2 linked regions of the Homo sapiens genome follow. The protein of the gene in region 1 interacts with the protein of each later gene in a pairwise test. Each region holds a gene or a part of one and is shown on either strand. Other genes may lie near its edges.

Region 1 (7,016 bases):
TGGTATGATCATGGCTTACTGCAGCCTCGCCCTCCCAGACTCAAGCCATCCTCCCATCTCAGCCTCCTGAGTAGCTGGGACTACAGGCGCACACCATGAAACCCCACTAAATTTTTTTCTTTTCTATTTTTTGTAGAGATGGAGTTTCAGAATGTTGCCCAGGCTGGTCTTGAACTCCTGGGCTCAAGTAATCTGTCTTGGCCTCCCAGAATGCTGGGATTACAAGCATGAGCCACCACACCCAGCCAGGACTTTTTTTGTCTTACAAGTACTTTTATTAGCACCTAAACTTAACAGTGTGAATTTGAACATAATATGTATCCACATATAGATACAGAAATTATGAAGTTAAAAAATATAAAATTATAAAGTTATTTTTAAAAACTACTTCAAATGCAATTATCTATTTCAGTACTGTAGTTATTCCCCCCTTTAAATTTGTTTTGTGTTTTTTTTTTCTAGATGGAGTCTCGCTCTGTTGCCCAGGCTGGAGCACAGTGGCACGATCTTGGATCACTGCAAGCTCCACCTCCCGGTAAAAAAAATTTTTTAATCAGATACAGGGTCTTACTAGGTTGCCCAATTCCTGGGCTCAAGCAATGCTCCCACTTCAGCCTCCCAAGTTTGAGCCACTGCACCCAGCTCCTCCTTTATTGTAACATTCTTTTTTTTTTTTTTTTTCTTTTTTCTGAGAGGGAGTTTCACTCTTGTTGCCCAGGCTGGAGTGCAATGGCACCATCTCAGCTCACTGCAACCTCCACCTCCCGGGTTCAAGCGATTCTCCTGAGTAGCTGGGACTACAGGCACCCACCACCACTCCGGGCTAATTTTTGTATTTGTAGTAGAAACAGGGTTTCACCATGTTGGCCAGGCTGGTCTTGAGAACTCCGGACCTCAGGTGATCCACGCTCCTTGGCCTCCCAAAATGCTGAGATTACAGGTGTGAGCCATCGCCTCCAGCACCTATTGTATCATTCTTATCCCTCTGACCTTAAAAAAAAAAATTGGACTGGGCCAGGCACAGTGGGTCACACCTGTAATCCCAACACTGGAAGGCTGAGGCGGGTGGATTACTTGAGATTAGGAGTTCAAGACCAGCCTGGCCATCATGGTGAAACCCTGTCTCTACTAAAAATACGAAATTCAGCTGGGCGTGGTGGCATGCACCTGTAATTCCAGCTACTCGGGAGGCTGAGGCAGGAGAATCGCTTGAAACCAGGAGGTGGAGGCTGCAGTGAGCCAAGATTGTGCCACTGCACTCCAGCCTAGGGGATAGAGCAAGACCTTGTCTCAAAAAAAAAAAAAAAAAAAATGAAGACTTCTTGACTTCACTGCATTCGTTTTCCAAATCTGGCTACTCTATTTCCTAATTGCATGACTATGCATAAGTTAATTATCATGCACAAGTTCCTTAACCTCTCTCTGCCTCAGTGTCCTCATCAGTGAAATGTGGGGAATAATAGCACACCTACCTCACTGAGTAGTTGTGAGGAATAAATAAATTGATATACGCAAAATGCTTGAAATAGTGTCTGGAATGTAATAAGTGCTGTCTATGTGTTAGCTGTTATCTCCAGTTCCCAGCATAGTTTCTGGTACATAGTAGGTGCTAAATAAGTGTGTATGGTTTAATGAACTTACATTAAGGATTCATGGGAAGATGGGATGGGGAATGGGGAGATGGAGGAAGCACCCTGAGAAGTTGCCAGAAATCTAAAGAATGGAGCTCCATCTTTCTGCAAATGAGGACCAAAGACCAGTTTGCAGTAGGAGAAACGGAGGTTATGCATAGAAAACTTCTCAGTGGTTAAAGGTGAAAGTATCTGGGATGCGAACATGAGCAAGAGAACCACTTCTTTATAGGAGAACTTGATAAGTAAGAATGATCGTGAGGACTGAGATTGACTGAGACCAACAATAATGATAGCTCAAATGAACACGTTTAAAATTGAATGTGCCTGACACTGCTCTAAGCACTTTACATGTATATTTTTATATTTACTCCTCCCAGCAATCCTGAGGCAGAAACAATTATAAATCCTACTGTACACATGCTGAAACCAAGGTGCACCTATTTTAGGAAATGAGGTCACACAGCTAGTAAGAGGAAGGGTTTGCTGGGATTTGAATACAGATCTGACAGTGAGGCTCAAGCGCTTAATCACTAATCTATATTTCTGCATTTCAAAACAGTGCACACACATGCTCTTCATACCTCTTACAGAAAATGAGAGTAGTCAGCAGCCCATTGCCTACCTGTTAGAAGCTGGTCTCTTCACAGAGACGGAGGGAGCAGTGCTTAGCAGCTTTTTGTCTTGCTTGAGGAAGAGGTTCTGGATGAAGGTTTGCCAGGCTCCTGGGAGTTCCAAGCACCTTAAAACCCTGGAACTTGAGCCCCTGTTCAACACAGTTGCTCCTTTTGCACCTTTGAGGAAAAGCTTCTGTCCTGTGCTCAAAGAAGAAGCCAAGGTGCCAAGAACGACCCCCACCCCCATCAGTCCACTAAGCCATGTTAAGAGACCTGTGTCCAGCCCTGTGACTATATCTGTGGAAATCACTATTCCGGGACCAGGGGAAGATGCTGGGGTTGGGATGAGGGCTGGGAACCCATGAAGGGGAGTGGAATAAAGGGAGCAACCCAGGAATGATGACCTGGAAGAGTGCAGAAAGTGAGGTGCTTCATTTTTTCTCGATGCCTTTGAACCAGAGAGGTGTAGATTGATCGGTGGATATGAAGGTGTTGGACTGATGGGGATGGGGATGAACTCTAAATGTGGCTCAAAGATCCATAACTGCCAAGCTCGAGCTGCCTCCCTTTCCATATGCGCCTCATCTAAGCAGCATCCCCATCTCCCCTCTCCCCACAACAGAGTACTCACCTCTGCCCTCTGGTGCCTGAGTGCGCATTGCCTTTGCAAACAGACTTTCAGGTGGGAACTATCCAGGACTTCCAGCTGCTTCAAGAAACCGGACCTCTTCTGTACAACCCCCTGTCTGTCTGTCTGTCTGTCCTTTCCTTCTCAGTCCCCACCCCATCGGAAGCACAATTTCCCATTGTCTCTGTCTTTTCCCCTATTGTTGAATAACAGGGCCCCTTTCTTTATTCTGTGGGTAATGGCAATGAAATGTCAACAGCTGGGGATGTGGGATGCAGGACCGGCTGGCACATACCACCGGAAAAGGGCCTGGGTGGGGGGCGGGCTCAGAACAGGAATTGACATCCCCAAGAAGAAGAGAATAGGGTGAGGGGCAGAGAACGGATGGTGAAAAGGTTGAAATGGAATCTCTCTCAACACTCCAAATTACAGGGCTCTAAAGAGATTTTGTCTGAGGCCAGGGGAAAGGCTGGGCTCCATGAGGGCAGAGGGAGTGGCTAGCATTGCAATAGGAGAGATGGAGATTAGACAGCAAGGAGGATTTTTCTGTCCCTGGGGAGGAACATGAGAATTTCTGAGGACAGAAGGACTTTGGAAACCTCTCCAAAAGAGAAGTTATCTTATTGGTTCCCTAATATTCTACCTCTTCCCTCAGCACAAATAGATAACCTTTTTAAAGTACTCAGAAGGGGATCCTTAATCTTCCTGGATGGAAATTCACTTTCTCTCAAGTCTTTTTTTTTTTTTTTTTTTTTTTTTTGAGACGGAGTCTCGCACTGTCGCTCAGGCTGGAGTGCGGTGGCACGATCTTGGCTCACTGCAAGCTCCGACTCCCGGGTTCATGCCATTCTTCTGCCTCAGCCTCCCAAGTAGCTGGGACTACAGGCACCCACCACCACACCCGGCTAATTTTTTGTATTTTAAGTAGAGACGGGGTTTCCCCGTGTTAACCAGGATGGTCTCGATCTCCTGACCTGGTGATCCGCCTGCCTCGGCCTCCCAAAGTGCTGGGATTACAGGCGTGAGCCACCGTGCCCGGCCTTTTTAAAATTTTTTTTTTAAGACAAGGCCTCTATCTGTTGCCCAAGTAGGAGTGCAGTGGCCCAATCATAGCTCACTGCAGCCTCGAACACCTGGGCTCAAGAGATCTTCCCCCTTAGCCTCGAAATTATCTAGGACTACAGGCGCGCACCACCACACCCGTCTAATTAACTTTTTTTTTTTTTTTTTTTTGAGACAGAGTCTGGCTCTGTCACCCAGGCTGGAGTGCAGTGGCGCAGTCTCGGCTCACTGCTACCTCTGCTCTGCCTCCCGGGTTCAAGCCATCCTCCTCTTTCCTCAGCCTTCAGAGCATCTGGGACTACAGACGTGCGCCACCACGCCAAGATAATTTTTGTATTTTTTTGTAGAGATGAGGTTTCATCATGTTGCCCAGGCTGGTCTTGAACTCCTGGGCTCAAGCAATCCGCCCACCTCAGCCTCCCCAAATGCTGGGATTACAGGCGTGAGCCACCATGCTGGGCCTAATTAAGTCCATTTTAAAACCTTTCCATTGAGGTATAATTTACATACAAAAAAGTCATAGAAATTATGTGTACAGCTAAATGAATTTTTACGTGTGTACATATATTGTACACAGGTAAAAACCCACCAGATCAAGACATAGAACATTTCCAACAATGCCGAATAGGCCCAATTGTTTTTGTTTTCTATTAATGCAGAGGGAGGACTCCCTCCACCTGCCCCTGTAAACAGCCATGTAGAAATGTTTTGAGCTTTAAGTTCCATTTTAGCCTTATTTTCTCTCTGCTGTAGCCCCATGGAAGTAGCTTTGCATTATTAAAACCATATAATTTCATGTTCTGTGAGTTAAAAAAAAAAAAAAAAAGAGGCTGGGCACTATGGCTCACACCTATAATCCCAACACTTTGGGAGGCCGAAGTGGGCGGATCACCTGAGGTCAGGAGTTCGAGACCAGCCTGGCCAACATGGTGAAACTCTGTCTCTACTAAAAATACAAAAATTAGCCAGGCATGGTGGTGTGCGCCTGTAATCCCAGCTCCTCGGGAGGCTTGAGGTGGGAAAATCGCTTGAACCCAGGAGGAGGTTGCAGTGAGCTGAGATCGTGCCACTGCACTCCAGCCTGGGCAACAGAGTGAGACACCATCTCAAAAAAAAAAAAAAAAAGAACCATACCCTTTCAGAACTGGAGACCTCAGGATGCTGAACATTTACTAGAGGAGGAGATGGAGAGGAAGGTGGCTTGCCCCAAATCACGCACAATACAGTCATTGAGTCAAGCCTAGAAGTTTCTGCTTTTTCCACTAATCCTCTTCTGCCTCTCTCCTTGGCTGTCCAATTCAGACAAGCTCCAGGTTTTCACTTGGGCCATATCTAATAATAGGAAGCTCACCTTGAATATACTTTTCTTTCTTTCTTTCTTTCTTTTGAAACAGGGTCTCACTCTGTCACCCAGGCTGGAGTGCAGTGATACGATCATGGCGCACTGCAGCCTCGACCTCCCAGGTTCAAACGATCCCTCCCACCTCAGCCTCTCAGGTAGCTTGGTGCACAGATGTGCACCACCACACCCAGCTAACTTTTAAAAATTATTTGTAAAGACAGGGTCTCCCTATCTTGCCCAGGCTGCTCTCAAACCCCTGGACTCAAGTGACCCTCCCTCCTTGGCCTCCCAAAGTGCTGGGATTACAAGCATGAGCCACTGCACCCGGCCGACTATACTCTTGAGAGATCTGATTGACTATCTTTTCCCTATCTACTCCATCCCTGTTCTTAAGCGCTTCCCTCCTCCTCCCACGACTGTCTCTCTCATGAGAGAAGACAAATAGCCCCCTGTCTCCTTGGACAGGACACCCTGATCCAGTGCATCTGATTGGCTTCCTGCCAACTCAAACAAACAGCCTCCGGCAGAGGGAGAAGTAGATATAAATGGCTCCACAGCCTGGCCACTGCATCCATTCCCAGGCTCATTTCTCCACAAATTTACTGTTCCTTTCTCCACAAATCACTTCTGAACTGTGGCTTGGAAGTCTCTGGTATGTAAATCCATAAAAGGCTGAGTTTGATGGGGAGGAAAGCCTAGAACTATTTGACAGATGCAAAAACAACCCAGTGAGGACAGAATGAGAAAGGAACAGACAGGAATACATATAATGAATAGCCAAACTGTGTTTAGTTTACTCAAGGTCACTTTCATTCTCAGTTTCCCCCCAGACGCTAAAATGGGAGTGGGGTGAGATGGCTGAGACAAGCTGGGGTCTCCTCACTGACCCAGCATCTCTGAGGAAGGGCTTTGTCAGTCCTATACCTACTGACCAGAGTGTGGTGGAGTGATTCCAGACAAGCACGGAGTCCCGACATCTCCTTCTCTAACACCCACACTCGCTTCCACCATCCAAGCAGGTTCAGCTGGCCAGTTTTCCTGACCCCTGGTGATGGCAAGCATGGCCCCAGTTTATGACTAGGATTGTTGTGTGAATGACTGGAAGGGCTGGCAAGATGACACTTTAGGGAGGACTTTAAAAGGCATGGCTCTCTTTGGTCTTTCTCTTTCCAACATTTTTTTAATAATTTTTTTTAACAGATGGGATCTCTAAAAATTTTTTTAAGAGATAGGATCTCTAAAAATTTTTTTAAGGGATGGGATTTGGCTGGGCACGGTGGCTAATGCCTGTAATCCCAGCACTTTGGGAGGCCGAGGTGGGCGGATCACAAGGTCATGAGTTCAAGACCAGCCTGGCCAGCATGGTGAAACCCCATCTCTACTAAAAATACAAAAAGTTAGCCGGGCATGATGATGCGTGCCTGTAGTCCCAGCTACTTGGGAGGCTGAGGCAGGAGAATCACTTGAACCCAGGAGGCGGAGGTCGCAGTGAGCTGAGATCGCACCACTGCACTCCAGCCTGGGCGATAGACCAAGATTCTGTCTGAAAAAAAAAAAAAAAAGAGAGAGAGAGAGAGTGAGATGGGATCTGTCTCTGTGACTCAGAACTGCAGTACAGTGGTGTGATCATTGCTCACTGCAGCCTCAAACTTCTGGGTTCAAGTGATTCTCCTGCCTCATCCTCCTGATTAGCTGGGAGTACAGGCGGGCACCCCCATGCCTGGCTTTCCAGCATT
Region 2 (7,037 bases), on another chromosome or scaffold:
CTGGCTTCTCCCTGCTGTCAGCACCTGCTCCAATCTCAAAGCAAGGCTGGGGCTGAGCCTGGGCTCTGCTGTAACCTGGTTGGGTGTGCACACGCTTGAGGCAGTGCTGATATGCCCACCTCCTACCCCATTGGCCTGCTCCAGACTTTGGGTGCCAATAAGCATGGAAGGGAGGCTGAGGAAGGGGTGCTCAGGACAGCTCGGTGCCAGCCTGCAGGTGCCCCCTCAGCATGAACAGCCTGGGTGCCATAAACAGAAGCAGGGAGCAAAGAAGCTCCTGGGCAGAAAAGGGGAGGTCCCCGGTGAAGCCCCACCTTCAAGCCAGAGAAGCCCTGAAGCCTGGGGGCCAGGTTGCCAGTCATGTGGACTGGAGTGGGAACTTGTGGTGCTTTTCTGGGTCTGTCCATGACTGCCCATGGACCAACTGCACGCATTTCCTCTCCTCTGAGGCACATAAAAGCCCCGGACTTAGCCAGACTTGAAGAGACAATGGGACGACCAGTGGCAGAGAGGAGCTACCCTCTCTGCTGAGAGCACAAGAGATGACGGGGAAAACCTGCCTGCAGAGAGGAACTGCCCCCTGCAGTTCAACTCTGAGCTGTTCTATCACTCAATAAAGCTCCTCTTCATCTTGCTCACCCTCTACTTCTCTGTGTACCTCATTCTTCCTGAACGCAGGACAAGAACTTGAGACCTGCCAAATGGTGGGGCTAAGAGAGCTGTAACACAAACAGGCTGAAACACGCCTCTTGCTTGCCACACAGCAGGTGAAGAGAAGAGCTGCGGCCCTTTGGGGAGCTCTGTCCTGGGAGCCCCCTGAGCCAGGGCAGTGACTCCCTAGTCTCCAAGCTTCTGGGCAACATCATGTTCCTGGTGCCAACCGTGGAAGCTGCTTGTGATGTGCCTGGTCCAGCCACAGCCTTGCAAGGAGGTGGCACCTGGAGCTGCCTGGCCTGCAGCAGCAGCCGGCGTGCCTGCCTATGCGCAGTGGCCAGACCCCACGCTCACTCACACATCCCTCACCACTCTGTGCCTGGCTCGCCCTTGGCAGGCATGGGATCTAGGCCGGTAGCATGAGCTGAGTGCAGCCTGCTAGGTTCCAAGTGGGTGGAACGAGCCTAATGGGCCAGAGCAAAACTCAGGCCAAGGCGCCACTGGCCACAGAGGTTTCCGGCTGGTGAAATGACACCCCAAGGATCCCATAGCAATAATACCAGGAAGCAGTGCTTGCAAAAAGGAATGACACCAGAAAGAGTGAACCCGAACTGATGGGAAAAACAGGGCAAATGAAGAGGGTGGGGTCTGGGCACCTTAAGGTAGGGTCAACATGACAGACCCACCCACTCTGAGTCCCCAACCATGGGTCATGCCGCATTTTGGGGCAAATGATGCTGTTTAAAATAACGCAAATTCTGTGGATGTGATTTTGGGGGAAATTACTTGTAAAGACCACTGGAACTATATACAGTACTTTACTAGATTGGTTAGGGTAATTCCAAGTATGGATGATCAGAAACCAGAGAGAAACAAGATCATTCTTCACAGATCTAGGAGGTATACATAGCTACTTTATGAAATCTTAATCCTAGAGATGTTTTATAAACTCTCCTTTCTGAATATGAAATCTTCCCCTCTTCCCCAAATCAAAACAGACTCTCTTGCCAGGTCTCCATTACATTGGCACTCACCTCTCCAATGATCCCTCCATGCCTCGCACACTCATGTCTCTGTTCTTTGGTATGTCTCCTGGCTGCAGTTCACTGGGCGCAGGCTCAGTGCTGATCACAACCCTATGCACTTCTTTCAGATGGCCAAAATAGACTCGGATGTGGCCAAACACTTTTGCACAAAACTCACAACACATGAGTTTCTTCAGACGGTTCTCACCATGATGAAGTTTCATGTGTGTGCTCAGGCTGCCAGGACGTACATAGGACTTGCGACAAATCCGACAACTGTAAGGGCGTCTGTTGGTGTGTGTATTCATGTGGTCTCGAAGGTGCTGTTTGAACTGGAAGTGGTGGTTGCAGACGTGACATCTGTGCCAAGGCTTCTTAATGCCAGAGAATCCATTTCTGAACACGGAGCTGGGCTTAGGGGAAGAGCTGTTGTCTTGCTTACAGCCAAGATATTTAGGAGTGAGTGAATTATTTAACAAAACATCCTGTCCTAGGCCCCCAAGCATCTGGGACTGTAGTGTAGTTGGAGAAGCCAGGGAGGCCAAAGTGGGTATGACCATGATAGGTTTGGGCATAATGCTACGGTATTTTTTCAGGGTCCCCAGCTTTTGGTCTCTGAATTCTTGGGGATCATTTTTTACTCTTTCTTTACCATCTCTACACTTATTAATGATATATTTCCTCCTTTTTCCCTGAAATGCCAAAATTTCATCTGGTACCTTCCGTTTTCTTCCTTTTCTCTTTGCTGCTCCACTGTTCAGTTTTGTTTTGTGGTTAAGATCAAGTTTGGTGGGTGGACAAAAGGCACTTTCACAGGCACTCTGCTGTGACACTTGTGGAACAGGTAGCCTGCTTGCCACCTTGGTGGCTGCATTAAAGCCTTCTGTGGTGGAGGGTATCTTATCACAGTCGGCCTTAGGTCCTGGTAAAGAAAAACCTGCAATGTTAGCATCTGATTTGATTTTGTAAACCTCCATTGTCTTCATTCTTGAGTAGGGTGGGATTGGCAGTTTCCCTTTGGGGACTGAAGAGATCAACTGAACTGCATTGCCAAGAATGGTTGGTGATAAATTGGTCATGGTTTTTGCAAGATCAACTTGTTCTTTAAATTTTTCACTGGCAACAGCAGAAGGTTTACTAGATGTTATCTTGCTTACAAAGTGTGCTTTCCCTGAAAGAGCTGTGAGGTCCTGCTTGGCAGGCTCCTCTGGTGTGGATGATGCTGGGGTAGCAGGAGGGTTCAGACTGCCATGGGTGTTGGTCACTGGTGGTCTCAAGTCCCCATGGTCACTTCCATTGGTCAGCGCAGCTGTGCTAATGCTGGCTGGGGCTTGCTCTAGTGATGGTACTTCCTCAAATGGACTGGGTTTGTACAGGAGTTCAGGGTGGTGAGGTGGGGAAGGGGACATCTGAGGACACATTTGGGTTTGGGCAGGAGCTTTGCTACAGCCACTCTTAGGAAAGATCAGGATGGGTTTCTTTCTTGATGCTTTGCTATTTCTAGGGGGTTGATATCTAGGAATAGGAAGTTTCAGGTTTTCAGGTAGGGACATTCTGGGTTTCTGAATTGGCTGAGCTGAGGCAACATGTGGCAGAGCAACAAGAGAAAATGTCCCCTCCTGGCCAGCAACCTGCATCAGGGCATAGTTCTGGGTGGACATCCCCAGCAGCTTGGAGTTGATGGAGGGTCCCAGATTCACCTGATCAGAGCGTGATGGTGAATGACATGGCAGCATTCTGGACGTTAGGACTTTGGGCACAATTTTTGGTGCAATGGTCCTAAACTGACTCTTATTCTGCAAACCTTTCCTACTCTGTATTGTTCCAGAAGGGATGTTTGATTCACCTGCAATGACAATAAAATATAAAGAGTTACTGTATGTAACTGTTCTGTTAGTGATACTTCAAACAACAAGCATCTTATTTACTCTGCCCAGAACAGATTCCTTGACCTACCTCCAAGCCTTCTGGGCAAAATCTTGTGTCCCTCAAGACCAGCTTGAAGATCAATTCCTGCCTACCTTCCCCAAGGATTTCTATACTTATCTATGGTTCCTTAGCTCCTATTATGTTATTTACCATTTTCCATAATAATTTATGTGTTTATGTGTATCTCTACTAGTCAACACTGCTTGACAGCGAAAATTCCGTCCTTCTCATCCATGTATTCTGCAAGTCCATCCTCTCCATTTAACCTATCCCCACTCATCTTCACATGATGTCTGGTATGTTCTGCTATGTAGTTTATTATTTTATATACATGTTCTGCTTTCCCTATTAAGCTTCAGCTTTGTGAGGGTACAGCCTATATTCATCTCATCTTGATATTTCCCACTGTATCCTTTGTATAAAACAAGCGCTTCTTGTATCAAACTCATTTTTCACTCAATCTCAGGATACACCATTTGACCCACTGGCAGTTGAATTTGTTTTGCACAGTGGATGCATTCCAGACTGAATGCTAGCTTTGTTGCTGTTTCCCCATGTGACTTACGAATTTCTTCTCACACCTTTCAAACTGTTTATGTGTGCTTTTGCAATTAAATCACCAGTATTAAAAAAGCTGATGTGACACCTTTAAAAAATGTTGAACAAAAAACAGAAAGATACAAAGTGATAAGTACAGATACAGAGACAACATGCAAAATATGTGAATGGCATAAAAAGCACCTTCTAGGATACTAATAGGAACAATTTTGACTGATAGGGTAACACTTCATTCTTTCTGGATTTATTAGCCTGACCTAAGATCAATTACTACTACCTTAAGAGAACAATTAAGGAAACATTTTGGTGTCCTGCTTCTAAAGACTGAATTATCTATTTTATTCTCTGAGGTCTCAAGGTCACAAGACCTGGCTGCAGAAATGTTTCTAATTTCTAAGTATCTCATATTAATCAAACTTCAATTCACATTTACTAGGCACCTACATTATTCCAATCATTATCCCAGGATTGGCTATTGCCAAGTCCACAATCCCTTTTCTGAAATTTTTGGAGGAAGATGTGGTTTGGAATTTATATTTTCAAATTTTGGAAAAGTAGTAAGATGCGTGTACTAAATGTTACATAACTCCCAGCGGAATCTGCAGGGCACCCATAATTGAACCTATTACCACTTCTGTAGCAAAACATGCAAATATTCGCAAGTTGGACAAATGAAGATTTTTAAATTGTCTTTATTTCAGTTCAAGTTTTTGCTTCTGAATGAGTTTGTAACAACTTTTCATAAACTTCTGTTTTCAGAGTTTTTTAGATTTTAGAGTTGGGGGTAGGGGACTGAACACTATCTGTTAGAGGATACAAGGTAGGTAGCAGACAATCTAGTGAAACAGACAATTGAAAATGTAAAATCAGCTGGGCACGGGGGCTCACGTCTATAATCCTAGCACTTTGGGAGGCTGAGATGGGCGGATCACTTGAGGTCAGGAGCTTGAAACCAACCTGGCCACGTGATGAAACTCTGTCTCTACTAAAAATACAAAAAAAAAATTAGCCAGGCATGGTGGCAGATGCCTGTAATCTCAGCTACTGGCGAGGCTGAGGCAGGAGAATCACTTGAACCCTGGAGGCAGAGGTTGTAGTGAGCCGAGATCGCACCACTATACTCCAGCCTGGGCAACAGTCTGAGCGAGACTCCGTCTCAAAAAAAAAAGAAAAGAAAATGTAACATCAACCTTGATTTTCTTTTTTCTTTTTTTTTTTTGAGACGGAGTTTTGCTCTTATTGCTTAGGTGAGTGCAATGGTGCGATCTCGGCTCACAGCAACCTCTGCCTCCTGGGTTCAAGTGATTCTCCTGCCTCAACCTCCCAAGTAACTGGGATTACAGGCATGTGCCACCACACCCAGCTAATTTTGTATTTTTAGTAGAGACAGGGTTTCTCCATGTTGGTCAGGCTGGTCTCGAACTCCCGACCTCAGGTGATCTGCCCGCCTCGGCCTCCCAAAGTGCTGGGATTACAGGCATGAGCCACCGCGCCCGGCCCGTCAACCTTGATTTTAATGCCTACAGTGAGTGAATTAACAATTTTAGCAGGAAGTTGATTCTTTCAGCAGAAATGACACCGCCTAAATAAACAAGCAACCTAGTAGAAATAAGGTGAAATTTATATTGACCAGTTTATTTTTAGAAAGTAATTGTTTTGCAAAGAAAAAGGACATTATGAAACATAAGTTCACAGGATAGCCTGCACGAGAGTAAGAAGTACAAGGACTAGTGAGTGCTATTGTCTGGAAAAATCAGACAAAGATAATTATGTTATTTGTTGTTTTCCTTCTGAGTTTGGTTACCGTGAATTCCGCTTATGGGTAAATTGAGTGGTAAATCACTTGACAATAGTCATCTGTATGGATTGCTACTTCTTCCTACATAATTTTAATTTTTAAGTTTTATTTTCATAGCCTTTAAATTTAAATGTTTTTCATTTTAAACCTCACCTTCTCATCTTTTTTTTTTTGGAAGAAGTACCAAAATAAGTCATAAATAAACACTTTAAATCAGGATTGAGAGACTTTGCAGAAAGCCTAAAATTATTGATGGCTTTTGGTTACTTAGAGATGTGGCTTAATAAATAATTACATTAACAGTAATAATGTTCTTTGCATTTACACAACAGATCTGGGGTGTGGAAGGAAGAGAAGAGAAAATATTGGGTCATTTATCACTAGTTCTTCCTCCTAACTGGGCAGAAAATATTTACCGCAAGATGAGCTAGAACAAAGGCTTAGTAATTCACCCTCTTGAAAGAATATGTGACAATAACACATCATAGCACAAGATCTATGACTTCCTCATCTCAAATCTGTCCAATGGCTCTTCATCTCAGAGTAAAGCCAAAATCCCTGCAATGGCTTAAAAGGCCTCATGCTTAAAAAGGTTCTCAGGAGCCTCTTTGACATATTTCCTCTACTTGCTCCACTCCAGCCATGGTGGCCTCTTTGCTGTTCTGGGCATGCACCTCCTGAGAGGAGGCTCCTGGCTGGGAGGAGCATTGGCTACTCCCGCCCACCCAAGACACTCTTCCCTCAGTAAATCCCCAGTACTTGCTGCATCGTTTCCTTCAAGGTTTTGCACAAATGGCTTCTTCTCAACGAGCATCTCCTCTGATGACCTTATTTAAAACTATATCCCATTGTGAACTCCCTGCTCCCTCTTCCTGTTTCATTTTCTCTAGAACATATGCTCCATTTATGGCCAGGCATGGTGGCATATGCCTGTAATCCCAGCACTTTGGGAGGCTAAGGCAGGCAGATCACTTGAGGTCAGGAGTTTGAGACCAGCCTGGTCAACATGGTGAAACCGTTTCTACTAAAAATACAAAAATTAGCCGAGTGTGGTGGCAAGTGCCTGTAATCCC

The links.
Region 2: the proteins of HAPLN2 (region 1) and ZNF438 interact in binary tests that used the Homo sapiens proteins (3 or more experiments, as listed by UniProt).

What each region holds. Positions count from the first base shown.
Region 1 is NC_000001.11:156,615,399-156,622,414, reverse strand, and holds the start of HAPLN2 (hyaluronan and proteoglycan link protein 2 precursor), read right to left. Parts: upstream 3,001-7,016; 5' UTR 2,908-3,000; coding exon of another isoform or gene 2,880-2,907; intron 2,447-2,879; coding exon of another isoform or gene 2,257-2,446; intron 536-2,256; exon of another isoform or gene 487-535; intron 1-486. UniProt on the Homo sapiens protein: Mediates a firm binding of versican V2 to hyaluronic acid. May play a pivotal role in the formation of the hyaluronan-associated matrix in the central nervous system (CNS) which facilitates neuronal conduction and general structural stabilization.
Region 2 is NC_000010.11:30,846,843-30,853,879, forward strand, and holds part of ZNF438 (zinc finger protein 438), read right to left. Parts: intron 3,526-7,037; coding exon 1,689-3,525; intron 1-1,688. UniProt on the Homo sapiens protein: Isoform 1 acts as a transcriptional repressor.